2 separate regions of the Homo sapiens genome follow, and region 1 is linked to region 2. Evidence: fine-mapped expression QTL. A gene starts in region 2. The other region holds a variant in brackets. All regions are shown on one strand. Distances are between the middles of the regions. Region 1 overlaps ZNHIT3 (zinc finger HIT-type containing 3). Region 2 holds the start of MYO19 (myosin XIX).

Region 1 (13,685 bases), 36 kb after region 2:
TGCCACTGGGGTGCTCATGGGAAGAGGATCAGCTACATGAGCTTCTTTGACCTGGCTCATCTCCAGCTGTCTAGCTTCCTGTTCTAACCCTACCCTCACTCACTTCTCTCACATCGTCTGCTTTCTACCACCTCTCAGTCCTTGCATGTACCGCCCCACCTTCCTGGGATACTCTTGACTACTGCCCCATCAGCTCCACCTCACTCCCATCCTCCACGCCCCTTTTCCTAGTTTAGTCCTTCTCATCCTTCAGACTTTAGCTTTATCACCACCACCTCGAGGAGGCACCTGGAAAACCAGGTTTGATTAGCACCTTCCTACCCAGCCTCAAACACACCCCCGAGGGTGTTCATCCAACATGTGTGGCCCATTGGAGTGAGCTCTGACATGGCAGCAGGCAGCCTGTGGCACAGCCTCCAACACACAGGATGAGCTGAGTGATAACAGTTGTTGCTGGACGAATGGCAAGAAGTTTTGAGATTGTTCTTTTCTAAGAAGATTGCTCTGGGGAGAAGTGGGGAGGGGAAAGAGGAGGAGATTGGATTCAGGGAGAACAGTCAGGGAGGATCACAGGTTTAGAAGGGTCCCTTAAGACAGAGGTGAGGAGCATGGGAAGTTGGGAGAGGAATGTGCTCTGAGCCTGCTCGTTGAGAGCCTGCAGCAGTCATCCCTGCACAGGAGATTCTTGGTCTCAGGATCATGGAAGGGCCCGCTGGAGGCATTTGATGTAGTTACTAACCAGAGCCCAGTTGATGGCCCTGGGCAGCCCCTCTCCCTGCCTAACCCCATGGTCTCTCATCTGCAGGCCTCACTGGAGCAGCTTCTGCAGGTCCTACACAGCACCACGCCCCACTACATTCGCTGCATCAAGCCCAACAGCCAGGGCCAGGCGCAGACCTTTCTCCAAGAGGAGGTAATTAACACCGGGCCAAAGCTGCTTCGCACCAAACCCCATCTGGCCAAGGCCCTGGAGAGATGAAGGGCAGGACATCTGTTCCAAATGGAGTGCACAGAAGTGGTCTCTCCGGCCAGGCCTGACATGAGAGAGGACCCATCTCCCTTGCTGTGGCAGGGCAGGCATGTATGGTTGTGTGGTCTGTGCATAGTAGCCTAGCCAGGGAGGCAAGTTCCAGTGCATCTTGTTTTTTTGAGCCATGTACCCTGATGAGAGACTGAAACTGCCCAGAGGAATGGGTGTCTCGTGATTAGCTGAAAGTCTACATCACCACACAGTCCCCGCACAGTGCAGCCATTTCTCACTGGAGGTATCATTTTTTTCTTTTTTTTTTTTTTTTTTGAGACTGAGCCTCACTCTGTCACCCAGGCTGGAGTGCAGTGGTGCAATCTCAGCTCACTGCAACTTCCGCCTCCCGAGTTCAAGTGATTCTCCTGCCTCAGTCTCCCAAATAGCTGGAATTACAGGTATGCACCACCACACCTGGCTAATTTTTGTATTTTTAGTAGAGATGGAGTTTCACCATGTTAGCCAGGCTGGTCTCAAACTCCTGACCTCAGGTGATCTGCCCACCTCAGCCTCCCAAAGTGCTGGGATTACAGGCATGAGCAGCCACTGCACTCAGCCGGTATCATTTTTTTCTAATCTAACAAAAGCACTCTAGCCAGCAGCTGCCCTTTTCTTGGGATTCCAGGTTCTGAGGGATGTGGATGAGGGGTGAATGCTGGGCACTGCTGAAGGTGTGGCCTGGTAGATGTGGCCTTCCGGTTTGTAGCCAGGACAACTCAGCTCTGTGGTAAAGACCTGGGTTCAGGTCACAGAAGAATCTTCATAGTATAATCTTCCCTGCCTCTCAGCTGTGAACCACCCTCTAATGCCTGCAGACAGTGAAAACAATCCAAACTGGAAATTTGCCTGGGCTGGGTTGTGTGGTAGTGAGACTACACTGAGGGCAGGGTGAGACGGAGCCAGGACATCACTTGCTTCAGCTGTATCAGAAGCCATGCGTCGGATGAGGGGGACTTGGGACCACCAGGACCCTTTCTAGTGGGAGATTTGTTTTCAAGGTCCCTCGATTTCTCACAGCCCCAAGGAGATACCCCCATTAGCCAAGCCTTGGGAGAGCCTGCAGCTTGGCACTGGCCAGGGTCTAAGAAGAAGGGCTGAGAGAATGGCATTTCTGGCCTGCTGGCCCCATGCTGCAGGTGCCTGCCCTGTCTCCCCACCCTTGCAGGTCCTGAGCCAGCTGGAGGCCTGTGGCCTCGTGGAGACCATCCATATCAGTGCTGCTGGCTTCCCCATCCGGTGAGTGGGCTCGATCACGGCACAGTGCAGGGCCAGTACAGAGTGGGGCTCAGGACTCTCATTGGGCAAGAGCCTGCCCAACCCAGAGTGAGATGTGGAAATGAAGAGAAAGAGGCTGGTCTGTAGAAGTCAGCTGGGAACTAGGGAGCAGCACCCATTCGTTCATCCATTCACTTATTGTGCACTATTTTGTACCCAGCTGATGGCTGTGACAAAAGCCACACTGGTACAATGTTGGGGACAGAAGCCAGACTCAGGAGGGCTGACAAGCAATTGGGAGGAAGTGCAGATATCAGGTGCCAGCAGCTGTCTGAGAAGTGTTGCCTTGATGAGGAGCAGGGAGATCTGGGGGAGGCAGAGGAGACTGTGGGGTCAGAGAGGTCAGAGGGGAGATGTGGCCAAGCATGTCTGCGTCATAGGACTGGTCCAATTGTTTGGGGAGAGGCCTGTCAGCCCCTTTGGAGGGAGGCAGCCCGCAAATCCCCTGCTAACACAAGAGATGCTTTGTGTTGGTAGACCAAGGCAGCAGGGAGAGCAGACCCATTTTAAATAGTCTTTATGGGTTTCCAACTAAGTGATCCTAGAAATCGCTTCAAAACCACATTCACATTCAGTGGGGATACTCGGGGAGGGCAGCACCGTGCTGTGTTGTTGAGCAGATTAAATAGAATAACTTCTGATGAGCCCTGAACCGTTAACCTGGCTCACAGATGAAGTAATTCTCTACTTCTGCCTGCTTTGGCCTCCAGGGTCTCTCACCGAAACTTTGTAGAACGATACAAGTTACTAAGAAGGCTTCATCCTTGCACATCCTCTGGCCCCGACAGCCCATATCCTGCCAAAGGGCTCCCTGGTGAGTGGGACCCATGAGTTAGTCATTTGTGCAACCACAGTTTACTGAGCATCTACCCTGTGCCCTGTCTTAGGGCTAGGGGCTGGGGCTTACTGGTGAATAAAACACAGCCCTGGTTTTGGTTCAGTGGGGGAAACAGATTCAAAAAAGACAAATAGCATGGAAAGTGGAAAAGCAGAGCTATGAGCAGGATGCTGTGGGTGGTGCTAGGGAGGTGTGAATTGGGGAAGGCTTCCTGGAAGAGGTAGTATCTGAGAATAAATTGGATTAGCCAGGTGATGGGTGGTCCACATGATAAATGTAATCTGAACAAAGGCCTAGAGGCTTGAGGCAGCAGTGTGGGTATGAGGAACTCCAGCCAGTTCTGTGTTGCTGGTTCATTGAGGCAGAGAACTGGGGCAGGTGAGGCTGGAGTGGCAGGTAGGGCTCCATCAAGGAATCTGGACTTTATTCTCTGGGCAGATGAGCAGGCACTGCAGGGGAAGGAGCAAATGACTCTTATCAGCCTCACACTTTCTGGAGACCACTCTGGGGGCACCATGGAGGGCTGTGGGATTGAGGCTGCAAAGTTGCCCCAATAGAGAGAAACAAGAATTGTGGGCACAGTCGGGAAATATTTGTTGGAAGAAACTGGTCAGTCTTGGTAGGGGCTTGACTAGATGTAGAGGGAGAGGAAAGGAGTAAATTAACTTAGCCTGGGAAGTGAGGAAAAGCAAGAGGAAAAGAGGTTCAGGGAGGCTGAAGAGCCCGGGCATGGGTGACTTGTCCTGCAGGTCCAGTGAAGAAGTCTGCAAGGCACTTAGGCAGGCTTTAGTCTCAAAGGAAGGATCTGGAGGCCCTCATATGGGGGTTGTCGGCATGCAGATAAAAGAGAGGCTGTGGGAGCCACAGGGCCCAGACACAGGCAGAGGGAGAACAGGCCAAGGACAGGCTGCCGGGGGGCCCCGCCTCGGCAGGACCCCAGCCCAGCACCTCTGCCCCTCCCACCCAGCCTTACCCTGGGCCCCTCACAGCCATTGGGGCAATCCTGCTTTGTTTCCTCCCCTCCTGGGCAGTTTTCACTTTCCTTTCACCCTTTCTCCTTTCTTCTCCCTCTCCATGGTTTGCTGTCCTGTTCCGTGTCTCTTGCCCATAGCCCTTCTGGCCCCTGGTTGATTTTGCTGCTGTTTCTCATCTGTGGTGTCTCCTTTGGCAGCCTCTGTCTTCAGAGAGGCACTGGGCATCTAAGGTGGTCAGAGCCCTCAGGTAAATCCTACCTCTCCAGGAGTCAGCTCTGCGAGCTGCGGGAGGGCAGGCAGTGGGACACGGGACCTTTGCAGGGCTGGGATTTTTTAAATTTATTTTTTAATTTATTCTTTTTATTTGCAGTAGAAGATTCCCAAACTAAGGGCTGGGATTGGATCTCCCTTTTCCCATACATGGTGGGGAGTTGAGGGGTCGGGGCTGAGGGAGTGGCCTATAGCTGCCCTATTTGGCCCTCAGGATGTGTGTTTGGGCCTTGGAAACAAATGCTGGCTGAGCAGCCTGGGATTCCAAGCTTGGAAGGAGTCACCCTTCCAGGTGTCAAGCACCCTCTGCCAGCCTGCCCAAAGGGACTCATGGCAGTAGAGGCTGTGGGACACCCCAGGACACACAGGCGCAAGTGGGTATTCCAAGGCTCCACGGAACAGCTAGCACCCTGAGGGACAACAGAGAGGCTGTTTGTGGCTTCCTCCAAAAGAAGAACAAGGAGAAAATGGCTAGAGCCAAGAACAGCAGGAAAGAGACCTGTAGAGTGCTAGGGAGGCCAAAGCCAGTTTCTTCAGGCCACAGAGGCATGTAGAGATGACCATGCACTGATGGGGCCATCTCCCTCCCCCAGAATGGTGTCCACACAGCGAGGAAGCCACGCTTGAACCTCTCATCCAGGACATTCTCCACACTCTGCCGGTCCTAACTCAGGCAGCAGCCATAACTGGTGACTCGGCTGAGGCCATGCCAGCCCCCATGCACTGTGGCAGGACCAAGGTGTTCATGACTGACTCTATGGTGAGCTGGTTTGGGGATGAGGAGGTTACAGAGGCAAGCTGTGTGCTCTCCTCAGCAGGAGGGGGCAGGGGGAGAAGAGGCTGCCCTCAATGGATGCCTTTTCTCCCAGCTGGAGCTTCTGGAATGTGGGCGTGCCCGGGTGCTGGAGCAGTGTGCCCGCTGCATCCAGGGTGGCTGGAGGCGACACCGGCACCGAGAGCAGGAGCGGCAGTGGCGGGCCGTCATGCTCATCCAGGCAGGTAGGTGGGCAGGTCACCTGTCAGCACTGCTCACAGACCCCACAGGATGTTGGTTTCCTTTGAAACATAGCTCGTCGAGTCCCCATCTCCTGAAGCTGTGTCCCAGCCTGAAGAGATGTCCCTGTGGTGTGCTGGGATTCAAATTCCCTGTCCCCCTCACTCATAACGTCTCTCCAGTTCAATGGAAACCAAGTCACTCCACAAACAAAGGTGCTCTGTAAGAAGTGGAGGCTAAGCGTTGTCTAAGCGTTGTCTTTAATTCCTTTCTCAGACCCTGACAGCTGTTTAGGCCAACTTTTTTTCCCTTTATGACAACTCAAACCATTACCTGCTGGGCTCTAGGGCTGGAATGAATTTAAGGAGAAGGTAAAAACCAAAAGGAGTTCATCAGATGAAAAGATGTATTAACCAACATGTTCATAGTGGTCTTATTTTGAAAAGGAAAAGTGTTGGAAAGAACCCAAATATCTAACAGTGGTGACATCATGGCCAAATGATGGACTGGACCATCCCTATGATGCAGCTAAGTGTTTTTGAAGAATATTATAAATTTAATGGAGAACCACTTCCAAAATGATATTCATACCTAGATGTCAAACTACATATTAAGGGCGATGCCCTCCTTTTAAGGTGTGTTTGTGTGTGTGTAGGCATTAAAAAATTGTATAAGGAAGCTGGGCACAGTAGTTCGCTCCTGTAATCCCAGCATTTTGGGAGGCTGAGGTGGGAGGATCACTTGAGCCCAGGAATTTCATACCAGCCGGGCAACATGGCAAAACCCTTTCTCTACTAAAAATACAAAAATTAGCCAAGTGTGGTAGTATGCACCTATAATCCTAGCTACTCAGGAGGCTGAGGCAGGAGAATCACCTCAACCCAGGAGGCAGAGGTTGCAGTGAGCTGAGATTGCACCATTACACTCCAGCCTGGGTGACAGAGCAAGACTCTGTCTCAAAAAAAAAAAAAACAACAAAACATAATTAACCGTGCCTGGTGGCACATGCCTGTAGTCCCAGTTACTCCAGAGGCTGAGGCAAGAGGATTGCTTGAGCCTGGGAGATTGAAGCTACAGCCTTACGGAGGCTACAATAAGCTGTTCGTGCCACTGCACTCCAGCCTGGGCAAGACCCTGTCTCAAAAAAAAAAAAAAAAAAAAAAAAAAAAAGAAACAAAAAGAAAAAGAATATGCTGAAATTGCAGAGAAGGGAATAAAAATTACCACCATCTATTAATTGTATCAGTGTTTGGGTATATGGTGATGTGAGATCAGGGATGCATAAAGCGAACAAATTCAACTGAGGATTAAAAACAAAACAAAAAAAAAAGTTTTTAAAGGCACAGACAATCCAGACCCCTCCCATTCCCTGGGTGCTGACCTGGACCCAGCCTGAGACGGGAAGTGATTGCTGGGCCCTCAGCCAGTCCTTCTCCCCAGTGCCCCTTCACTGTGTTGTGTAGGTGTATTCAAGTGTGTGGGCAGTGTAAGGAATGTTTAAAAGCCAATTTTGCCTTATGTATTGATTTTAGAACCTTATTTGTAGCAATTTATTGAAAAAAAAAAAACGTATTTGAAACTTTGACAGCAACTGTGGTGCTGCTGCAGCGAGGTCACTGACAGCTCTAATGGCCCCTTTATTATCTCTTTCCTGTTTCTGGGCAAACCTCTTAGCCATTCGTTCCTGGTTAACTCGGAAACACATCCAGAGGCTGCATGCAGCTGCCACAGTCATCAAGCGTGCATGGCAGAAGTGGAGAGTAAGTAAGACCCAAGAAGTCGGGGTGGGCAGTGGATCAATTTTGGGGACCAGATGGACCCGAGTGGGAATGCTGGCTCTGCCACTGCAATGCAGGTGGCCTTGGGCAGGTTGTTTAGCCTCTCTGAGCCTCATATTCCTCATGTATGCAGTGGGCACAGTAACACCTACCCTGCAGGGTGGTTATGTAGGTGAAGAGTGGTATAAGCAACTCTGGGAATATACCAAACTCTGGGATGTACACTTTAGAAGACTGGGTTTTATGGCATATCAGTTATATCTTGATGGACTCTTATCTTGTTTTCAAGTAGCATATGTAAGGCCTAAGCACAGTTGCCTGGGGTGTATAGACTTGTGGCATATGGAACCAGTTTGGTTCAGGGCAGCCAGCTGTTTGCAACCAGGTGCCTTCAGTTCACCTTGTTAAGATGATTTGTTAAAGATAGTTTTGATTTCCATTTTCTGCTAAGAGGGCTAGATAAATCTAAAGCTATAAAGGGATATTTGCTTTTTAAGATCAGAATGGCCTGCCTTGCTGCTAAAGAGCTGGATGGTGTGGAAGAAAAACACTTCTCTCAAGCTCCCTGTTCCCTGAGCACCTCGCCGCTGCAGACCAGGCTCCTGGAGGCAATAATCCGCCTCTGGCCCCTGGGACTGGTCCTGGCCAATACGGCTATGGGTGTAGGCAGCTTTCAGAGGAAATTAGTGGTCTGGGCTTGCCTCCAGCTCCCCAGGGGCAGCCCCAGTAGCTACACTGTCCAGACAGCACAAGACCAGGCTGGTGTCACGTCCATCCGAGCGCTGCCTCAGGTACGTTGTGTGTGATGGCCATGACAGCTTTGTTCCTGAGAACAGCAGGAGCAAAGCCTACAAGTTCACAGCGGGAATGAGACTGAGGCTGGGACAAGATCCATCCCTAACCCTACTGGGTAAACCAGAGGGCTGCATGTCCCAATCAGCTGCAGGTTTGGATTATTTATTTTGTTATAACTGGGAATCTTCCAGAGCCCTTTATCTTTTTAAAAACTGCTTCTAATTATTTCAGCATCTCTAAATCTTCTAGTCCCATTTCCAAATGCAATGCTGCGTTTCTAGCAAGCTCCCAGCTGATTCTGATGCTCCATGAACCACACTGTGAGAACCAAGGCTTTAGATGAGTCAGGAGCAGGAGGTGATGAAAGTTTAGCTTAGGGCCTGGAGCGGTGGCTCACGCCTATAATCCCAGTACTTTGGGAAGTCGAGGCGGGTGTATCACCTGAGGTCAGGAGTTCAAGACCAGCCTGGCCAACATGGCGAAACCCCATCTCTACTAAAAATACAAAAATTGGTTGGGCGTAGTGGCAGGCGCCTGTAGTCCCAGCTGCTCGGGAGGCTGAGGCATGAGAATTGCTTGAATCTGGGAGGGAGAGGTTGCAGTGAGCCGAGATTGCGCCGCTGCACTCCAGCCTGGGTGACAGGACGAGAGTCCATCTAAAAAAAAAAAAAAGTTTGGTTTAGGGTAATAATAGGTCAATTACAGAAAAGAGGAAAAATTCACGAGACATAGCAAAAAAGAAACTACCCAAGACTTGAGAGCAAATAATCTAATTAGTCCCACATCACAACTTGGGTTGTGAGGAGTTTGTTACCTCAAATGGCACTGGATTTGGCACCATGTTTTCCCCAAATTGTATTGCTTGGTTTTTTCCTTTTCTGGCTGACGAAATGACAAGCAGGGTCAGTGGTCCAAGTTCTCTGTGGGTTTTTTTTTTTTTTCATGTTATTTA[A/G]TTTTTTGAGACGGAGTCTCACTCTGTCGCCCAGGATGGAATGCAGTGGGTTTAAGCGATTCTCCTGCCTCAGCCTCCCGAATAGCTGGGACTACAGGGCATGTGCCACCATGCCTGGCTATATTTTTTTTTTTGTATTTTTAATAGAGACGGGGTTTCGCCATATTGGCCAGGCTGGTCTCAAACTCCTGACCTCAAGTGGTCTGCCTGCCTTGCCCTCCCAAAGTGCTGGGATTACAGGTGTGAGCCACCGTGCCCAGCTGTTTTTATATAAGCATCCAGGGAAAAGTCAGCCAGCACACTCAGGAAGTCATTGTCACTCAGGGCTTTGTGAGTCACCCCAGTAAGCCAGGCCTCATAGAATTAAAGTGGCCGAGGAAAGGTGAAAGTATGTTGCACTGGGAGGTAGAACCCCAGGGTCTGGATCCTGGTTCTGCCCCATTCACTGGATGATCTTGGCTAAGACACATTTTCTCGGAGCCTGTCTATAAAATGGGCTAATACTCAACCTACTGCATGGAGTCACAGCAAGGAGTAAGTGAAATGACAAGGCAGAAGGAAACACCAAATTTCCATTCAGAGGAATAACTATAGGCCTTAATCTGGATGAAGTCTCCCATGAAAACACACAGGCCTGCTAAACAGAAGGGTAAATGTTTTGCCCTTCTGGCTTTAAGCAGTCATAGGAATGTGACAGACATTCCTCTTAGGGAGCGCCTCCTCCTAGGGTTTCCTCATCTGTCTCACACTGAGTGGATGTAATGCTATTTTAATCCTGCTGTGGCCCCCAATACTAGTACTTGTCCATACCTTCTTGCATTTTTAGCGTCTGCTCTGTGGGGTTGTTAGGCCCTGGCACTCCCAGGAACTAGTGCTAAAGCTGCATCTCTCTCTCCCCTCTAGGGATCGATAAAGTTTCACTGCAGAAAGTCTCCACTGCGGTATGCTGACATCTGCCCTGAACCTTCACCCTACAGCATTACAGGCTTTAATCAGATTCTGCTGGAAAGACACAGGCTGATCCACGTGACCTCTTCTGCCTTCACTGGGCTGGGGTGATCCTTGGTGCCTTTGTTTCCACAAGGCCTTTTCCTGCCCCCTGCCTTGCCAAAGACATTTAATCAGCACACAGCTGCCAGACTATTCCCACAGTGCTCCAAATGCACATGAACAACAGTGACGGCTCCAGCCTTCGACCCAGAGCCCCGTGCCCAGTGCGTCAGTGGGCCTGGGGTTCCAGGCTACATCAAGCACTGATGGTGTCAGGGCTGGTAGTTACCAAATCAGGGTTAAGAAACATCAGGGCCACATTTCACTACCTTCACAGATCAAACTCAGCAGCAGTCATGACTGTCTGTCACTACACTGGGGATCCCAATTCCACATAAGCACTTTTGGAAGAAAACAGCCAAAGTTGGCCTAAAATTGGCGCTGGAATTTGGGCTGGGAAAAATCTTGTGGTTATTTCCTTTAAAAAGGAACAAAACTTTAGTATTTAATTAGTTGATTTATTTAATGTAATTTCAAACAATTAAATTATGAATAATGCAATGTACAGTAGAATCACGTTTTGATTTTATTAACACTGACCAAGTTTAACTCCATATGAAGTGTAAGCTTGATATCGTTTATGATGTCTATCAACTGTACCAAAAGTAAAACATTTAAAAACAATCATCTGAATGTCAAGTTTTCTCTCCATAAAGGACTTGCCACCTTAAGGACCCCAAGTCTGCCTGAAACATGAGCCACATCAATGCCGGTAAAGGCCTGCATGACCTAATCTGCATCCTGGAAACCTCTTTTGCCTGAGCTCCCCAGCCCCAAACTAGCTGGTCTGGGAGAGGGAGCAGGCAGGTTCCAGGAGTCAAGCACACGCTTGAGCAAGCAGCACAATAATCCATCTTAAGACTCCTCATTCTGGGATGGCTCCACAATTCCTAAACAGCAGTCTGCAAACTCCACAAACAAAGGCTCTTGCATGTAAGCTCTCATGAGCTTTGCTTTGTCTTCTCCCTGATCGAGGTTGACCATCAACTGCCTGAGGTGTGGATTGAGCAATAAGCTTCTTAATGTTGCAGATTCCCCTAAAAATTAACAAGAAAAAAAGCCAGTCTGAGTTCAAGTGGAAACACATGGAGATGGCTGAAAAGTGAAGAGCTATTTCAAGTGTAATAAAACTATCAGCAAGGTGTGGTGGCTCATGCCTGTAATACCAGCAACTGGGGAGGTCAAGGTGGGCAGATTGCTTGAGCTCAGGAGTTCAAGACCAGCCTGTGCAACATGGCGAGACCCCACCTCTATAAAATGAAAGGTAAGACCAGCATATCAAACTATTTCCGCATTAAATGCAGTAACAGATACCAGTTCTTGGTATCTTTGTAAATATTGTAACTTCGTGCCACTTCAGCTAAGAAAAAAATGCTTTATCAGCACAATCACAAAGCAAATAGTAGCATTAAGCTGCTGGCATGTTTTCTTTCTTTCTAGCCATAAAAGTTGCCAGTGGTGAAGACGGCTATACGAAATAATCTGAATGATGTCTAAGCATGCCATTTGGCATGCAGCAGCACCAGTAGCAGGGAACCAACAATAATACCTGCATGGTACTTCACAGTCTGTAAAATTTTTCACACCTATTACTAGCTCATCTCCAAACTCAGTCTAACTAATCATTACCATGAGACTAAGTGCAAAACATAACCTTTTAACATGATTCTGTGAAATGGGAAGAATGAAATTAACAGACCCCATGCACATGTAACAGAATGTTGTAAGGACTGAATAAGCAGTGCTACAAAAATGGCAACACCTGTTTCCCCCTAAATCAAATCATGTGATAACCAGTTTGTGTTAAGGGCTGGACTGTGAGCTGAGCACTGGGGATCTGGGAATACAGGTCCCTGCTGTACAAATCGGTATGTGAGAGACAAATTACCATGAAATGTAACAGTGATTTATTACTATTAAGTCCAAGTTGCTATGGGAAACCAAAAAAGTGCCTAATTCTGAAAGAGACACAAAAGGTCAAGAAAAGCTTAGCTGAGTGAAGAAAACTTGAACCAAGGCTTGAAGGAGGAGCAGAATTTTGCCAACCCACAAGACCAGCAGGATTCCAGGCAGAAGGAATGGTGTGGGCAGGCTGGGAGGTGTGAAACCCTGTATGTTTACAGATTATGTGGCTAGATAGTAAGAGCCCTACATGCCATACTTATTCAAGAAATTAAAAACTTTTTAAAAAATCACAATCCTTACAACACAGTAAATGTATCTCAACGATTGACAAGCATAGCACAGACTTACCTAAATTCTTTAAATTCTGCAAAGAAACTCTGTCTTCTTCCTCATCACTATTGAGAAAATCAGCTATAGAGTCATCATCATCTAAGGAATACAAAACAGTCAATGGCTCATGGCTAAAAAGGAGGCCTGGGCACCAGATTTTAACCACTACTTGAACAGGATAAAAATGTGTGCACGCACATGTGATAGTGATAGGGGTATTCAAGCAGGTACAGACAAAAATCCTCTTCTCCGGAGTCTGTGACTATACTAACACTCCTTTTTTAGAAGAGGGAGGCTAAGTGAAAGAATTGGTGATTTTAACAAATGCACTCTAGTGTTCACATCCTTACTGTATATGTGGTCCTGTGGTCTTTAGGCTTAGACCCCGGTTGTCTAATAACTTAATACCCATCCCCACCTCAACATGGCTCCAACCCTGTGATGGGCCAATTAACTGGATGCTCTGTAAAAACCAGCCAAGTAGAATCTCCTGTGCTTTCAGCATGGGCAGAAACTGCTGGCATTGCCTGAACCCAACCTGGAAATTTCTCAAAGGGCAAAAATGGGCCATGCCTTTGGAGTGAATGTTCAATACCTCTTTGGTGGCACCAGAGGGGCTGCTTTCAGAGCCTGGCATGGTGCTTGACACCCAGGAGGTATTAAAGAACGTTTAGATGGCTGGACGGATGGGTTGACAGCCCACTACTGCTGTGAGCTCTGAACCCCCAGCAGCAGCGAGATGATCTAGGACAAAGAAAGCCTCCTGCCTGGGCTGAGTTCAGGTGAACTGACAGTCCCAGCCAGATTCATGGAGGGAGACCAGCAGCTATGGGCTAGAGAAGGCTCCTGCCAGCAGGGCCCACCGCAAACCCCCAAACCACAGCCATGGCCTTTCTCATCTCTGTCTTCTGCCCATTTTTCTTCTCCTGAATACTGCTTTCAGGCTGTTGCCTCAATATCACCCATGATGACATGGCCCCACTCCTGATGCTCAAGGCTAAGGAAGCTGTTCCTTCCCAATGAAGCTATTGTTCTGGATTCCCTGACCAGCCCCACTCTCCCCTTTTCCTTCGACTTATTCTATGTGAAGTCCCTTGTAGATTTGTTTGAAGTCAACCAACCCACCTTTGTTTTCCACAGGCTTTACGGTTTTGGTAGGAAGAGCTGATCTTATTTTTTTCTCAACAGGACGAGTTTCAGGGTTGCACTGTTCTGAAAAAGACACAAATCCCAGGCCCACATTACCTCCATTTCAGCGACAAGGCTGCACCTCCCTACCAAGGTAGCATCTAGGTAGGAAGCAAGTGTCTGGGGTAAGGGATGTGGGTGGGTGCCCAGGAATGTGGAAGAAGTGAGAGATCAAAGCAAGAGAGAGATTAAGGAAAACCGCCAGCAGGCTGAGAAAGCAGGACTCATTCATGCACCCCAAGAACCTGTCCCCATCCTCCCTACCCTGCCGAATCTTACAAAATTCTCACCACAATTAACTGAGGTGTTTGA
Region 2 (16,577 bases):
TTGTTCATTCCCGAAGGTGTCATTACCCGGCAAATATTTATGTCTTCTGGGCCGGGGTCATGGCTCACGCCGGTAATCCCAGCACTTTAGGAGGCGAGGTGGGTGGATTACTTGAGGTCAGGAGTTCGAGACTGGCCTGACCAACATGGTGAAACCCAGTCTCTACTAAAAATACAAAATTAGCCGAGCGTGGTGGCGCACGCCTGTTATCCCAGCTACTCGGGAGGCTGAGGCAAGAGAATCGCTTGAACCCGGGAGGCAGAGGTTGCAATGATCCGAGATCGCGCCATTGTGCTCCGGCCTGGGCGACGAGTGAAACTACGTCTCAAAAAAAAATTTTTTTTATGTCTTCTGGCCATGTTAGCAGAGTAGAAGAGTGAGTATTAGCTTGAATCTAATACGTATGTATGATGTTCATATACATAGCCAAAATTTGGACATTTTTAGAGAATCTTGCGTTTTATGTAAAAAACAAAACAAAAACCAGGACGGGGGCGGCGGCTAACACCTGTAATCCCAAGACTTTGGGAGGCCAAGGCGGGCGGGTCACTTGAGGTCAGGAGTTCGAGACGAGCCTGGGCAACATGGAGAAAACCTGTCTCTACTAAAAATACAAAAATCAGCTGGGCGTGGTGGCGAGCACTTTTAATTCCAGCTACTCCGGAGGCTGAGGCAGAAGAATCGCTTGAACCGGGAAGGCGGAAGTTGCAGTGAGCCAAGATACTGTGGCCTTCAGTATCTAGAGGTGCTCCTACAGTGGTACATCAATTAATGTACCCACTTTAAACCTTTTTTTTTTTTTTGAGACGGAGTCTCACTCTGTCGCCCAGGCTGGAGTGCAGTGGCGCTATCTCGGCTCACTGCAAGCTCCGCCTCCCGGGTTCATGCCATTCTCCTGCCTCAGCCTCCCGAGTAGCTGGGACTACAGGCGCCTGCCACCACGCCCAGCTAATTTTTTGTGTTTTTATTAGAGACGGGGTTTCATCGTGTCAGCCAGGATGGTCTTGATCTCCTGACCTCTTGATCCGCCCGCCTCGGCCTCCCAAAGTGCTGGGATTACAGGCGTGAGCCAACGTGCCCAGCCTAAACCTTTTAGACTTCATTAGGATTCTGGTTGGTAAAGAACATTAAAAATGACAAGCTCATTATATAGGTGCTAATTTTAATTACTTTGACTACTGAACACACGCCAGGTACTAACAAAGAAGGGAGTATTCACCCTGGGGATTTAAATCTGTGAAAAGGTATTAAAACATATATAAAACATAATAAAATGAAATCCCAAAGGTCTCTTTCCATCTGAGCTTACTTTCCCTAATTTGGGTTTGTCTCTTAGGTCCACCGGGCATACTTAGTATCTTTGGACAAATAGGAATTCAATGAAAACGTATTCTTAAAGGCGAAAAAGGTGGATTTGCTAGGTAAGTTGCTGTTTCTCAAGGAGGTAGCCTGGGTGCTATAAATCCAATCCAATCTAATCTAATCTAATACCATACAATATAATACAATCGATACAATAAAATCAATATCCCAAGGAAAACGCTTAGAAAATTATTTCATGGCAAAATAATTTTTCAAAGTTTTCACTGTGCATCTTCCTGGTTTTAGAGTAGGCACTTATTTTTATTTTCACTATTGCTCTATTTTTAGCCATAACCACCAGTACTGCAGCAAATACTTCTTGAGAATTATCCTATGTACTTTAAAATGAAAAGTATCTGCTTTTAGAGAGCAAACCTCTAATTGACGAAATATATAATTGCTACATTAAAAGACAGTTGTCTGTTGCCTATTATTTCATTTTGATATTGGCATTGTGAAATGCAAGTTCAAAGGATTTGAAAGGCCAGGAAAGTAAAGGCAATCAACAGCAGAACACATTTTGCTGGTACCTAATAAAGAACAGTTGGAGGGACGGAGCTGTAATAAATTATCAGCAAACTACCATTCTTTTTCTTAGGTCCAAATGTGTGAGACGCTAGCCACAAAATGCAGGCATAAATGAGATCTATCTGTTCTCCAGGCTACCTAGGTTTAAAAAAAATGAAAAGTACCAAGGTATTCCTTATTATGTCTTAGCTTCATAGACTATATTTAAACTCCTAGGGAGGAACATAAGGTTCTTGTATGATTTATATAAATACATTGGACATTTATGCTCAATAAAAATAAAACTGGTTGTCATCTTCGGCACACAAGAGCTACTGGGGCACGTGTAGTAGACATCCCCAGTTTATAATTGTGTAAAATTAAAATTGGCCGGGTGCGGTGGCTCGCACCTGTAATCCCAGCACTTTGGGAGGCCGAGGCAGGCGGATCACGAGGTCAGGAGATCCAGACCATCTTGGCTAACGGTGAAACCCCGTCTCTAATAAAAATACAAAAAATCAGCCGGGTGTGGTGGCGGGCACCTGTAGTCCCAGCTACTCGGGAGGCAGAGGCAGGAGATCGTGCCACTGCACTCTAGCCTGGGTAACAGAGCAAGACTGCGCCTCAAAAAAAAAAAATTAAAATTATGGGAGTCACTTTCTGAAGGGCATAGATAGGCTGAGGTCCTGGACAGATTATGTTCTTCTTACTCCTCACTTTGTTATCTTTCCCTCTCCTCTGCCCTCAAAAATTGATAGTTGCAAGGAAAATGATAGTTGATTAGAAGACTTTTTGTTGTTTCATTATAATAACCACAGTTTTATGTGGTAAGACAATCTATGGCCACAGAATGTTATTTAAATTACCATAGTGACCTAAACCTGAGGATCTGTGGATTGGGTTTTCTTTTTCATGAGCTGACACTGGGAAGTTCTGTTTTATCTGTCAAAAATAAACACACCTGGTTGGGTGCGGTGGCTCATGCCTATATCCCAGCACTTTGGGAGACCAAGGTGGGCGGATCACTTGAGGACAGGAGTTCGAGACTGGCCTGGCCAACATGGTAAAACCTCATCTCTACTAAAAATACAAAAATTAGCCAGGCGAAGTGGCGTGTGCCTGTAATCCCAGCTCCTCGGGAGGCTGAGGCAGAAGAATTGCTTGAATCTGGGAGGCGGAGGTTGTAGTGAACCAAGACTGTGCCACTGCACTCCAGCCTGGGAGACAGAGCAAGACTCCATCTCAAAAAAAAAAAAAAAAGACAGTAGAATATTAAACGTCATTATAGGCCAGGATCACGACGCCTGTAATCCCAGCACTTTGGGAGGCTGTGATGGGAGGATCACGTGAAGCCAGGAATTTGAGACCAGCCTGGGCAACCCCATCTCTATTTTTTACAGATTTAAATTAAACCTTAATTTAGCCATAGTTTTATTAAATTACACTGGGTACTTGATGACTCTCATCTTTCTTATTGGTTCTCCTTTCCCTTAGCATGGTAGGTGAGGATGCCTGATGTGGCCCCTGCCTGCCTCTCCAGCTCTCTGCCCATGCTCTTCCTTCTTCTGTGTTCAGCCTTCTTTCAATTCCATTATGTGCTTGGTGCCCTCCCAACGTAGGACTTTTGCTGAGGGAGTCATCCATCTATAATGTTCTCTGCCATTTGCCCCCCAGCCCCCAGACACATAAGACTTTATAACTCCTCATCCCACTAATCAGCTCTAGCTCAAAAAAAAAAAAAAATCTGTGGGGAAAACTTGACTCCTTACTAGGTCAGTTCTTGATTTGACACTCTTGACAACCTATGCTTTTTCTTCATAACTTAGCATTTCACAATAGATGTTTAATGTCTGTTTCCTCCACTAGATTGCAAGCTCTGAGGTATCAGGAAATTTGTGCTGTGCTTCTTAAATCCCTAGCATAGGGTAGGCTAAAAGATGAATTAATCCCAAAGCAAAACTTTGTCTCGTAATTATTATGTGTATAAGCTATAATATAACATCCAATTCAGTCTATTTTTTTTTTTGTAGACAGGGTCTCACTGTTTCCCAGGATGGTCTTGAACTCCTGGGCCCAAGCAATCCTCCCACCTCAGCCTCCCAAAGTGCTAGGATTACAGGCGTGAGTCACCATGCCCAGCCTTCCATCTATTCTTTGGTGCATTTAACTGTCTGACTTCATAGTATATAAGTATTTTATTTTTAAAATTTTTCTTTTTATATCCACCCATCTGCACATTGGAGTGTTTGATTTTAAACACTTGCTTCTTAGTCCTAGGTTTTATTCAAAAATTTAAATTGAGCAATAAACAAGTATTGACAATCCACAGTTCACACTGAAATGTCAACATAAACATTTCATTTTATATTTATTGTAAAAGCAATATACAGTAAAAATACAGAATAGCATAAGGTTACATTAAGATGGAAAGTAAAAATTTTCCTCCCCCCACCCCAACAGTCTTTCAATGTCACAACTATAAAGTTTCTTTAAAATACTACTTAATACATTCTAACAAGTCAAAAGGCTTTGTTTCTTCTTGGTTTTATTGTTGAGATACATTAAAATATTAAGCATTGGCCCAGTGTGGTGGCTCACACCTGTAATCCCAGCACTTTGGGAGGCCAAGGTGGGTGTTATCACTTGAGTTCAGGAGTTTGAGACCAGCCTGGCCAATATGGCAAAACCCCATCTCTACTAAAAATATAAAAATTAGCTGGGCATGGTGGTACATGCCTACAGTGCCAGCTACTCAGGAGGCTGAGGCAGGAGAATTGCTTGAACCCGGGAGGTGGAGGTTGCAGTGAGCTGAGATGGCACCACTACACTCCAGCCTGGGTAACAGAGCAAGACTCTGTCTCAAAAAAAAAAATAATTAAGCATCACTGCTGTTTAGATGACTGAAACTATTTTATAATAAAATATGGTTAACACTGTTGCCAAAAGCACAATTTCTTTACAATTAATATTCCTCATTAAATATTGCCCAAATACTTATATATCCTACTCCTGCTGATCACCAAAATTGTACAGTCTTATCTTGCAAATATAGTACATATACAATTAAACAGTTGGAAAACATATAGAGATTGACCACAAATAAGGCCCACAAGGTACTGCTGTGTAATGTATCTACCATCAGGTTGATCAGGCCAGTTGTTATATTTGACAGCAAGAAAAATATTAACTGTTTTCTGTTTAGAGCTGTGATTAAACAAAGACTGGGTTCCATTCTTTCGGCTTCAGGGACTAGAGATTCTGAATGCTTTTTATTTGTAACAGGTGACTGGATAAGTTTCCAAGAACATGGTACTAGAGCTCCTTTAATTAGAAATTTGGCAAAACTCAAAATTATATCACCCAGTAATAAACTACTAAGAAGGATCAGGCTAGAAGCAACTATCCAAATACAAAAGGCTAAATTTGCCATTCTTCGAGATACTGCTTCTACATTTACTTGAACTACGTAAAGAGATATGAAGAGGCTAATAGCTGCCAGTAAAAGAAAACAGGCTACTTTTATCAAGTCTTTGATATGTGATCGGTTCTTATGCATATATAACCCTGTTTGCACACCAGCCATGTGTATTGCCACATACCCCAGGGTAGAGATTATTCCTTCGCGGTTGGCATTTAATAGACCAACCCGTGTGCCACTACCATCAGTGCCATATAATATTAACCTCTTCAGTGAGGTAAAGTCAAGGGCTAGCTGGTATAATACAGTAATGCCGAGGGCAATAATCCAGGACTTATTTAGGGGAAAAATAATCAACAGCAGTGGTGTTATCAATTTCACAACTATTATGGTAAAGAAAAAGTTCCAGTGAACTCCATACTCTGTTAAATGTTCCTGATAGCCTATTGATTTTATAATGGCTAATCGTCCGATTCCTAGGAAGACTAATGGCCAAACAGAGTACAATGAGTTTGTAAAGTAATGCAATTTGGACCCTTCCATATATTTTCTCCTCCTGACCTCTAGACAAACCATTGCAGACCCAAAAACAAAGCCACCTACTCCAAAATCCATTGCTCCTGTCCCATAGAGCTCAGTTTTGGCAAATCTTCTGGGAAAAAGTGGGAAGTCCACAGCCAAAATAGCAATAGCAGTAAACGCACTGGTAATTACACGGAAACAGGAGATGGCTGGATTGTATTCTGATTCTAGACTGATGTTCAAGAATTTTTCAAGGATTTTTAGGAAAGGCAGTCTGGCATAGCAGGTCCTCCTTCGGTATATTTGATACAACAGCCCTGCCCCAAAGATAATTACACCGAGAAGCTCAAGGAGGATAAATGAAGCCCAAATGGTCAAAGTGGCTACCATGGGAACTATTAGGACAACAAAGTCAGTGAGGAATCTAGTTTTCCAGGTAGGTGAAAAAGAACACAAGTACTGTGAGAAAATGATCAGGAACCCTCTGCACAGGATACAGAATGCAGGAAAGCACAATCCCTGGGTGATTTCCAGCACGGTGGTTCCATTGAGGTTACTGACAAAAGCTTCCTTCATCTGCTTTTCAGACATTTTTCTTCCTGTGAAAACAAGAGCAAAGGAATGGATTTGTGAAAAGCAGCATTCTTGTGTAATTAGCATACCTGGCTTAATTTTACTCTTATTACTAGATTTCAGAGCAGAACTTTGGGCCCTAATGAGTTCACCTAGGATTTGTGATTCCCCTTCCAAGGATTGTGGGAAGAAGCTTAACACTAATGTGTTCAGATAGAAATGTCATACTAATAATATTAAATTATTGGTTACAAAGCTTCAGCTATTCCCTGTACAAGACAGACTCACAAAGAAAGTGAATTTGGGGCCAGGCGTGGTGGCTCACACCTGTAATCCTAGCACTTCGGGAGGCCGAGGTGGGAGGATCACCTGAGGTCAGGAGTTCGAGACCAGCCTGGTCAACATGGTGAAAGCCCGTCTCTACTAAAAATACAAAAATTAGCCAGGCGTGATGGCACCCGCCTGTAATCCCAGCTACTTTAGAGGCTGAGGCAGGAGAATCGGTTGAACCGGGGAAGCAGAGGTTGGAGTGAGCCATTGCACTCCAGCCTGGGCCACAGAGTGAGACTCCATCTCAAAAAAAAAAAAAAAAAAAGGAAAAGAAAAAGCAAAGGAAAAGAGAGCGAATTTGGGATATAAACTCTGAGAATGGCATCATAGGCAGATGGGAATTTCTATTATGGAGCACAGTACGTATCATGAAGATTCTTTGATGCAAATTGAATAGGATTTACTAATGACCTTAAAGCAAATTCAAACGCTAGGGGCCAAGTACATTTTGAAGTTGGGGGCCTTGGTTCCAGTTCAGAGCCTCTCCAAACCTACTGCCTTGGTACAAAACGTGACCCCTGCAGTGATTTCTGGATCCCCAGGCTGCTCCTTTCCTCATTTACAGACAGCTATGTTTTCAGGTTAGGATGGAAGTAGGTACGGTGGGTGCATTAAGAATGGATGTATAGCACATACTAGTGTTAGTTGCTCTTTTATTAAGGGTTGTAAAACACCTCTGAATGCCACACATCATTGTCTGAAAAACGGCATACTGGAAGAACACATTTGTTGGTTAAACATGAACCTAGAGTTTCTAAATGTACCATGAGCTGAATAAGTAAGTGAATGCATGCGTGCATTATGGCCTGTCTGGAACCTGTGACAATATCTCACAGTAACCAACTCAAATCAGTTGACCATTAAAAATAAAAGTCCTAGCCGAGAGAAGTGGTTCATGCCTGCAATCCTAGCGCTTTGGGAGGAGAGAGGATCGCTTAAGGCCAGGAGTGAAAAAAAAAAAAAGAAAAATTAAAAATTAGCTGAGCGTGGTGGTGCGCGCCTGTAATGCCAGGCTGAGGCGGGAGGATCGCTTGAGCCCAGAGGTGGAAGGCAGCAGTGAGCCGAGATCGCGCCACTGCACTCCTACCTGGGCGACAGAGCGAGACTCCGTCTCTTAAAAAATAAACATAAAAATAAAAAGTCTTTTTCCTAACAGACGCCCGACCTGGCCGCGCCCTACCCGTATACCTCACGTACTCCAAATGGTGCCGGCGCCCCCAGCAGACGGTCTACGTGGGAAGGGCAGCCGGACTGCCGCTGCACCCGCCAAACCACGCGGGAACCAGCCGCTTCCGCCTCCCGCGCGGCACTTCCGGCCGACGCAGGCAGCTGGCACTTCCGGGCCGGCCGATTCCGCGCGTCTCCGCCCATCATGGCGCTCGTGCCAGTGTCCCGTGGGCTACCCACTCCTGTCATGTCCTTTGGGCTGGTGCAGGCCAGATCTTCTAGGGCCGTAGCCCTGAGAGGAGCGCCTGGAGAGGAAACGGCGCGCCATGCACCTCACACGGCCCCTCAGACCTCACGGCGAGGCCCTATCAGGGTAATGGTGTCCGCCGGCCTCGCACAACACTCCGCCGCACTCGCACAAGACTCCGCCGCGGCGACCTCTACTGAAAGACCCCCAGTCCTGGTGTCGCCCGAAGGCCCAGGAAACCGTGCTTCCGCGCTTCTCCCCCAGAACGTGGGAAGCTGCCGCTTTACCCTCATTTTACCCCAGGGTCGCAAAACATCTCACCGTAGTTGAAGCCAGCAAGCCGGACCAGGCGTCCCGGCCAAGCCACGTGCGCGCCCCGCGCCGCGAGTGCTCGCCCCGCCCCTAGGGAGGAGCCGGCCGACCCCCGGCCACTTAGCAGTGCCGCAGCCGACGGGGTGCGGTTCGGCGCTCCCAGGTTCCTTTCCTCACTGCACGCTCTTGCCCCTCCTCTTTTCTCTCCTGCCCGTGTTCTTCCCGCCGCCTGACCTGGCCCGCCCGCCTTTCCAGTCTGGCCGGGCGGGGGCCTGAAGCACGGCGGCTCGGGCCGTGGGACCGGTGAGTGTCAACCCGAACCTATATCTGAAGCCCTTCAGACGCGGAAGGGGCTTGGGAGGCCAGTTTGCCCCGCAGCGGTGAGGAAGAAGTAGGCGTCTCCACCTCCCCTTCCAAAGCGCCGTTTCCCTCCTTTTTGCCTTTTCCTTTTGACCCTCTTGTGTCTCACGAGGGGGTAGCCCAGCTCTTGGCTCTTGCTTGAAACAAGTCTTTCTTGATCACCCTCCACCTTTCCACCTGGCCGGCAGGGGGCGGCCTGGGGGGAGAGGGTCCTTGCTCCACTCTTCGCCCAGCTGAGGACCCCGGGAGGGGGCGGCTGGTCCCGGGAGGTGTCAGGGCAGCTGCGCCCTTGGCTGGGGTCACGTCCACCTTCCTGGGAAGGACATACTCTCCCCGTGCCAGGTGCTTCCGGAACGGCATCCCAGCCCTGGGTTTGCGGCACGACGCCCGGACCTTGAGTCCCCGGTTCCCGCCGGGAACCTGGGGGCGGAGCCAGCTGGACTGATGAGATCCTTACCCAGCGCTTCTCAGCGTCTGCCCTCCCACTGTCCTCCATGCCTAGAAAGAAACAGTCTGAGAAGGAGGGACTGGTGATCAGGTTGCCACTTGCCTTGATTCGGTGTTCCATTTACTCATTACCGTCTCCTTTCTGCCCACAGTGTTCACACCCTTTCCAGAAATTCTTGGCTGGTAACCGCGAAACCGACTGGAGCAGGAGCTGGGAGAACTGGAGAAAACTGCTCTAATCTCACTTGACTCCAGCTAGGAGCTGATGCTGCATCGTAATAACATTTGCAGAGCGCTTTCACAGGTATTAGCCCCTTTAACGCTTCATTTAGCCCCGTGAGATCTGGATATTATCACTCCGTTTTGTAAACGAGGAAACAGAGTGAGGCTTAGTTCTTGGGTTCTGTGCCAGGGGCCTTGGGTTTTGGATTCAAACCCCAAACCTGTTGTGCTGCCCCTCTGGACCTATTGCTTGAGATGAGTTCCCAGTTGAAAGAGCTTTGTTCTCTGGAGCCCTCTGCATGGCTGTCCCTTGGATGGGGTACAGTCAGTGTCCAGGGTCAGGATCTTTTAGGGCTGTAGCACCACACCTTAAGTGGTCCAGCACGGTCCTGATACCTGTTTCCGCCTCAATTGTCCTTTTTCCAGCTTCTATGGAAGTCCCTATCCCTGGGTTCTTTAAAGACTTGATGTATTCAGAGCCTCAAGAAAGTCTCCACCAGGGTTAATCCATTGCAGGCACGCTTCACCCTCAGCCTCATCTCTCCTTGCTAGGGGTGGTGCCAAGGCCTAGAAAATTCCAAGTCTGAGGGTCACTTAACCATTCTTCAAAGATTGGCTTAGGCCCAGCCTCACAACACCCCACCTCCCAGATGGATTCATCTCCCTGAAATCCTCACCTTCTTGAAGTTGACACTGGACCGTTCACCTGATTAGCGCTCCCAAATGGATCATCAACCCTTAGTCGTAGTGCTAACAGTGTTTATCCTCTGAGTGAATACTCAGATTCGTACTTTGTGTGGTGCTGTCAAACCATGACCTCATTGACCTTCACAACCACTCCTTATGAGGCAGATTTAACTGTCCCCATTTTCAAGGTAAGAAATTGAGGTAGGTGATGTGCCTGACCCAGGATCACACACCCAGTGAGTGATTGAACTGTGATATAAACTACCACACCACACCTTTCCTGGAGCAGCGAGAGATGACTCCAGCCTCTCCTCCTCACCAACGACTGAAATAGGATATTTCTGTCTAATGTAGAGGATAGGGCACAAGGCTTCTCTGTCTCCCCAGTGTCTTACTCCTCCTCCATGGCACACTGACCCAGAGGGTTTGCAGCCCCACCCCAACCCAAACCCTAACCCTGTAATAAAACTGGCCCAGGGAGCCTCTGAGGCTCTCATAAAAGTTTCCCTGTCTCCTAATTGGCAAGGGAAAGGACAGGCCCACTCTCCGCCCAGGCCTGCCTTGCATCTCATTTTGGTTGCTTCTGCTAGGTGGGAAGGAGTGAGTGAGTCACTCCAGAAAAGCCCTCACCTGTGTGTGGTCCTTGTCTTCTCTCTCATGCCACAGGCGCTGGAGTGACTTGTCTGAGATTCCTCCAGAACTGAGCCCTTTGTTGGAACCATACCCCAGCCCATGGTCCCATGACTAGGTGGATAGTACTCCTTGTACCTCCTGCAACCCAGAACCCTGGCTGACCACTTTGAAGGAGGATGCTCCAGCAGGTAAAACCTCAACCTTAGATAACCCAGGCCCTCAAGCACCTGCAGCATCTGTTGCTAGCCCTAACCTGGAAGGAAGGGAAAGCCCCCTTAAAGGTCTCTTTTCTCTCCTCAAATTGTCTCTCCAGTGCCTTTTACTCATCATCAAGAAACTCTTCCTGATACCTAATTTGAATCTGTCTTGTGGTTTTTAGCTCCTTTCTTTGGGATAGGTAAGGTGGGATGGGTAAGGGAATCCTTAGGGCACTTTGGGGATTCTGCAGAGGAAGTCCTGAGAGATGTCCCTGCCACCTGAATTGTTGAGGCATAGTAGAAGCCTGGGGCTTCCAAGAGGATGTGTTCCTTGAAGCTAAGCCTTAAAGAACTAGAAAGAATTAGCCACTTGGAGAAGGAAAATAAGCACTCCAGGCAAAGAGGTCAGCCTGTGCAGAAATGTAGGAGACTATGAGGAAATATAGAAGGATTCTAATGAGTGGATCATGGGTTACATGATCCCCATGTCTCTGCCTCTCTGAAAAGGCTACTGTTGCCCCAGGCCTGTAGGATTCCAAATCACCTTTTACAGCGGAGCTCTCTCTCATACCCATATCATCCTTCATGTGTAACTCTTGGTCCTGAGAGAGTGCCAGTACTTATTTGCTGACTTTTTATTTTACCAAGTGTTGCCAGGCACTGGGCTGAGGCAGATGTTGAGGTTGGTGCTTGCCCTCAAGGAGCTCAGAGTCTAGTGGAGTCTTGGGTAGGTAAGTGCCTGACATCAGCAAGGTAGCAGCCAGGTGTGGGGCCTGCCAGCATCAAGGGAGCCATAGTAGACACTGCAGCTTGACCTTCCAGCCATATGGCTCCTGGAACAGGTTTGAAGGTAAGAAGTGGGCAAAACAGTTGACTGCTCTGGGCTTTTTTCTTGCTTATTTTTAAACTTTTTTTTTCTCTTATTAAAAAAAAGGTATATCAATACAATGGAATAAAGCAAGTTACACAAAAATATAATACTTTTCAATGTTTTTAAAGTATGTAGGGGAAAAAACCTATGATATTCTCTAAAATATTGGTTATTTCTGGGTAGTATGATTATGGATTTTTATGCTCCTTTTGCTTATCTCTATTTTCCAATTTTTTTTTTTTTTTTTTTTTTGAGATGGAGTCTCACCCTGTCATCCAGGCTGGAGTGTAGTGGCTTGATCTTGGCTCACTGCAATCTCTGCCTCCCAGGTTCATGCTATTCTCCTGCCTCAGCCTCCCGAGTAGTTGGGACTACTGGTGCTGGCCACCACGCCTGGCTAATTTTTTGTATTTTTTAGTAGAGATGGGGTTTCACCGTGTTAGCCAGGATGGTCTCGATCTCCTGACCTCGTGATCCACCCACCTCGGCCTCCCAAAGTGCTGGGACTACAGGCGTGAGCCACCGCGCCCAGCCTCCAAATTTTTTTTAATAATTTTTGTTTATTTATTTTTATTTTAGAGATGGAGTCTCACTCTGTAGACAAGGCTGGTCTCAAACTCCTGACCTCAAGTGATCCGTCTGCCTCAGCCTCCCAAAGTGCTTTTACAGGGGTGAGCCACCGCACCCAGCCGTGAGACCCTGTCTCTTAAATAAATAAATAAATAAGGCCAGGCACGGTGGCTCATGCCTGTAATCCCAATACTTTGGGAGGTCGAGGCGGGCAGATCACCTGAGGCCAGGAGTTCAAGACCAGTCTGGCCAACATGGCAAAACCCCATTTCTACTAAAAATACAAAAACTAGCCAGGTATGGTGGTGCATGCCTGTGATCCCAGTTACTTGGGTGGCTGAGGCATGAGAATCACTTGAACCTGGGAGACAGTGGTTGCAGTGAGCCGAGATTGTGCCACTGCACTCCAGCCTGGGCGATAGAGCGAGACTCTGTGTCAAAAAAAAAAAAAAATACAAAAGCCACTTTTACGCGTGCCTGTAGTCCCAGCTACACAGGAGGCTGAGGCAGGAGAATGGCGTGAACCCGGGAGGCGGAGCTTGCAGTGAGTCGAGATCGCGCCACTGCACTCCAGCCTGGGCGACAGAGCGAAACTCCGTCTCAAAAAAAAAAAAAAAAAAAAAAAGCCACTTTTAGAAGAAGAATAGCTAACCCCTTTTGGCAGATTCCAGATGGCCTTTCTAAATCCTTCGTGTGTTTTTGTGCTTGTGAGTATCTGTGAGGTAGGTACCATTATCCCATTTTACAGAAAAGAACTTTAAATAATTATTTAGAGACAGGGTCTCACTTTGTTGCCCAGTGCAGTGATATCCCCATAGCTCACTGTAGCCTCGACCTCCTGGGCTGAAGCAACCCTCCTGCCTCAGCCTCTAGAATAGCTGGGGTTACAGGCACATGCCATAATGCCCAGCTAATTTTTAAATATTTTTTATAGAGACAGGGTCACCTTGGCCTCCCTAAGTGCTGGGATTACAGGCTTAAGCCACTATGGCCAGCTGGAAATTTTTCTATTTTTATTTTTTACTTTAGAGACAAGGTCTTGCTCTGTTGGCCAGGCTAGAGTGCAGCGGTACAATCATAACTCATTGCAGCCTCGAACTTTTAGGCCCAAGTGGTTCTTCTACCTAAGCCTCCCAAGTAGCTGGGATTACAGGGACCAGATGAGGAGAATTGAGGCAGAAAGAGATTAAGAAATTAACATAAGAGTATATAACTGTAAGAGATAGAGTCAGGATTCAGAGCCAGACAACTAACTTTCAAGTCCAGGTACTTGATCACTATACTCAGATGCCTCTCTGGTTGGATCAGAACTCTTCATAAATTGTGTCTGTGTTTGTGAATGGTTTGTGTAGTGGTGGTTTTTTTTTCCCCTTCATAAAAGGAGAGGGATATGCATAGATATAGCTGTGCTCTGACCTCCGCAGTTACTCTGGAGGCCAAGAGCCTACCTTGTGCATTATAGTGGGCCCAAAGTTCAGAGAACAGGCAACAGTTTTGGAAGAAATGCATTACTGGGCCTCTTGGAGGAAATTTGCCACCATGGCTTATTTCTATGAGAGATTTGAAATTTTAGGCTCACCATTCTCATTGGAAATTCACCTGTTGTATCACAGACCTCTTCCTTCAAAAGCACATTTCAGCAAGATACCTGTCTTCAACCCCCACTCTGTCTTTCCTGCATCCCCAAAGGAGACAGTAGGAGAAATGGGACCACAGGAGGAAGTGGAGGGATGATACATCAAGAATGGGCAAAGGAAGATAGGGTGACTCATGCCTCTAGTCCCAATTACTCAGGAAGCTGAGGCAGAAGGATCACTTGAGCTCAGGAGTTGGAGGCTGCAGTGAGATATGATCATGCCACTGCACTGCAGCCTGGGTAGCAGAGCAAGACTCCATCTCTTAAAAAAGAAAGGAAAAAAAAAAGATAGGCAAGGGAGGAGAAAGGACCTGTTCCCTTGGTGCTTATTCTTGACCTCAGACAGCCGTCTGAGCCAGGCTTTCTCTCAAGCAGACTCGGGCCAAGGGAACCAATTCATTAGCCAGCCTAAATTTAAGCCACAAAAGGCAGGTGATGAAGACATGGGGCTACCTCTCTCAGAAGGTACAGCTGTTTTACATCAAAAGCTGAACTGTCTCTTCCCAAAAAGGCCTAACCCATGGTTCTTTTCCTTTGCAACATTCCTATAGCCTTATTTCTAATAAGGCTAGTAGCCTGGAAGTGCTACTTGCAAGTGGCCGGAGCTCTTGGCAGAAGAGATAGCATTTGTTGAGTACATGCTGTATGCCGGGCACTGACTAAATGCTTTGTATATCTCTTCTTTTCTTCCCAATAACCTTGTCAGTTGAGTTTATTTTCCTTTATTTACGAATAAACAAACTGTGACTCAAAGAGGGTAACTTACCCAGGCTCACAGGGCTACTAAGAGGCAGAACTGAAATTTGAACCCAACCAGACTATGATACCAGAGTCTCCTTCTACTATACAGGTTCCCACCCTTCTGTAGCTGCCAGCTGTTTTGAGTACCAGCTGTCGCGGCCTTCATGTTTTTTGGTTTTTTTTTTTTTTGAGACAGAGTCTTGCTCTGTCGCCCAGGCTGGAGTGCAGTAGCACAATGTTGGCTCACTGCAAGCTCCGCCTCCCGGGTTCACGCCATTCTCCTGCCTCAGCCTTCCGAGTAGCTGGGACTACAGGTGCCCGCCACCATGCCTGGCTAATTTTTTGAATTTTTTTTAGTAGAGACGGGGTTTCACCGTGTTAACCAGGATGGTCTCGATCTCCTCACTTTGTGTCCTGCCCGCCTTGGCCTCCCAGAGTGCTGGGATTATAGGCATGAGCCACTGTGCCTGGCCTCACCTTCACGTTATCTCTTCCAGGTCAATGGCCACAATCCGGGGTCTGATGGCCAAGCCAGGGAGTACCTCAGAGAAGACCTGCAGGAGTTCCTGGGTGGGGAGGTCCTGCTGTACAAACTGGATGACCTCACCAGGGTGAATCCTGTGACACTAGAGACAGGTATGGGCCTCCCATTCCTCAGGAGTATCATCTCCAGGAGGTTGGAGGTGTAATGAGAGTAGTCAGCACAGCTTCTCCAGGTCAGACGGAGGTCGGCAGGACTCCTGATCTGGAGCCAGGTGGGCTGCTCCAGACCTCCGCCTGAGGGAGCATGACAGCTGCACCTGGGCTCCCCAGGGCATGCTTTGCTTCAGATTTGGAGCTCATCTTAATTAGATCTTGTATCTTTTCTTCAGGGAGCTGCTGGGATTTAATGATTCTTGGCTAATTGCAGAAAGAGGGCTGTTACTTAAGTAGATGTGTGTCTGTGTGTGTGGTTTGACTATATTTGAGCCCGAGTTTGCTAAAGGCATCTCTGCCTCAGTCCTGAGGTGCCTGCAGGCCCGGTACATGGCAGACACATTCTACACCAATGCTGGCTGCACCCTGGTAGCCTTGAACCCCTTCAAGCCTGTTCCTCAGCTCTACTCGCCCGAGCTAATGAGAGAGTACCATGCTGCGCCTCAGCCCCAGGTAAGGCTCTGCCGCTGCCTGTGGCCTCAGGGCTCCTCTACCTCCCGCTAAACCTCTTTGCAGTTACCCCTGTCCTTATTCATCTATTCACCAGCAATGTGGTCATTCAGAGTCTGCTAGTGCCACGGCCTGCCCAATAGGAGCTGGCAGAATTTTGAACCATGAAGAACTGACTACAGGACAGAAGGTGCAAAGTGGGGAATAAATAAATATTTGTTTAACTGAGTTTGGAACCTAAAATAAGAGACATAAGAGAAAGGATTTTTTTTTCTTGTTTGCGGTTTTATTAACAGGAAAGGATTTATAAAGGTATTATATATTTGTTTATTTAACAAACTACCTTTTTATTTTTTATTATTATTTATTTATTTATTTATTTATTTTGAGATGGAGTTTCAGTCTTATTGCCCAGACTGGAGTGCAATGGCATGATCTGGGCTCAGCGCAACCTCCACCTCCTGAGTTCAAGCAATTCTCCTGCTTCAGCCTCCTGAGTAGCTGGGATTACAGGCATATGCCACCACACCTGGCTAATTTTGTATTTTTAGTAGGCATATTGGTCAGGCTGGTCTCAAACTCCTGACATCAGGTGATCTACCCACCTTGGCCTCCCAAAGCGCTGGAAT

The links. PIP is the estimated chance that this variant, and not a neighbour inherited with it, causes the effect. A credible set is the group of variants that fine-mapping cannot tell apart.
Region 1: its variant is the best candidate, but not a certain one, in a credible set for the expression of MYO19 in whole blood (INTERVAL, PIP 0.71).

What each region holds. Positions count from the first base shown.
Region 1 is chr17:36,492,525-36,506,209 of GRCh38, reverse strand. It overlaps ZNHIT3 (zinc finger HIT-type containing 3), which reads right to left. Exons shown (of 5, transcript NM_004773.4): 3 at 13,311-13,397; 4 at 12,204-12,284; 5 at 10,388-10,987. The coding sequence ends at 10,806. It overlaps MYO19 (myosin XIX), which reads left to right. Exons shown (of 26, transcript NM_001163735.2): 19 at 806-913; 20 at 2,190-2,260; 21 at 3,010-3,113; 22 at 4,975-5,141; 23 at 5,251-5,380; 24 at 7,050-7,135; 25 at 7,651-7,944; 26 at 9,804-10,574. The coding sequence ends at 9,959. Among named protein-coding and RNA genes, the nearest start is that of ZNHIT3, 13 kb to the right of the region's middle. The variant A/G (reference allele first, on the strand shown) is at 8,901.
Region 2 is chr17:36,526,925-36,543,501 of GRCh38, reverse strand. It overlaps MYO19 (myosin XIX), which reads left to right and starts at 8,634. Exons shown (of 26, transcript NM_001163735.2): 1 at 8,634-8,741; 2 at 9,398-9,549; 3 at 10,821-10,975; 4 at 15,300-15,438; 5 at 15,803-15,951. The coding sequence starts at 10,964. It overlaps PIGW (phosphatidylinositol glycan anchor biosynthesis class W), which reads right to left and starts at 8,515. Exons shown (of 2, transcript NM_001346754.2): 1 at 7,910-8,515; 2 at 4,199-6,408. The coding sequence starts at 6,400. The coding sequence ends at 4,886. RefSeq lists an enhancer at 9,268-9,943.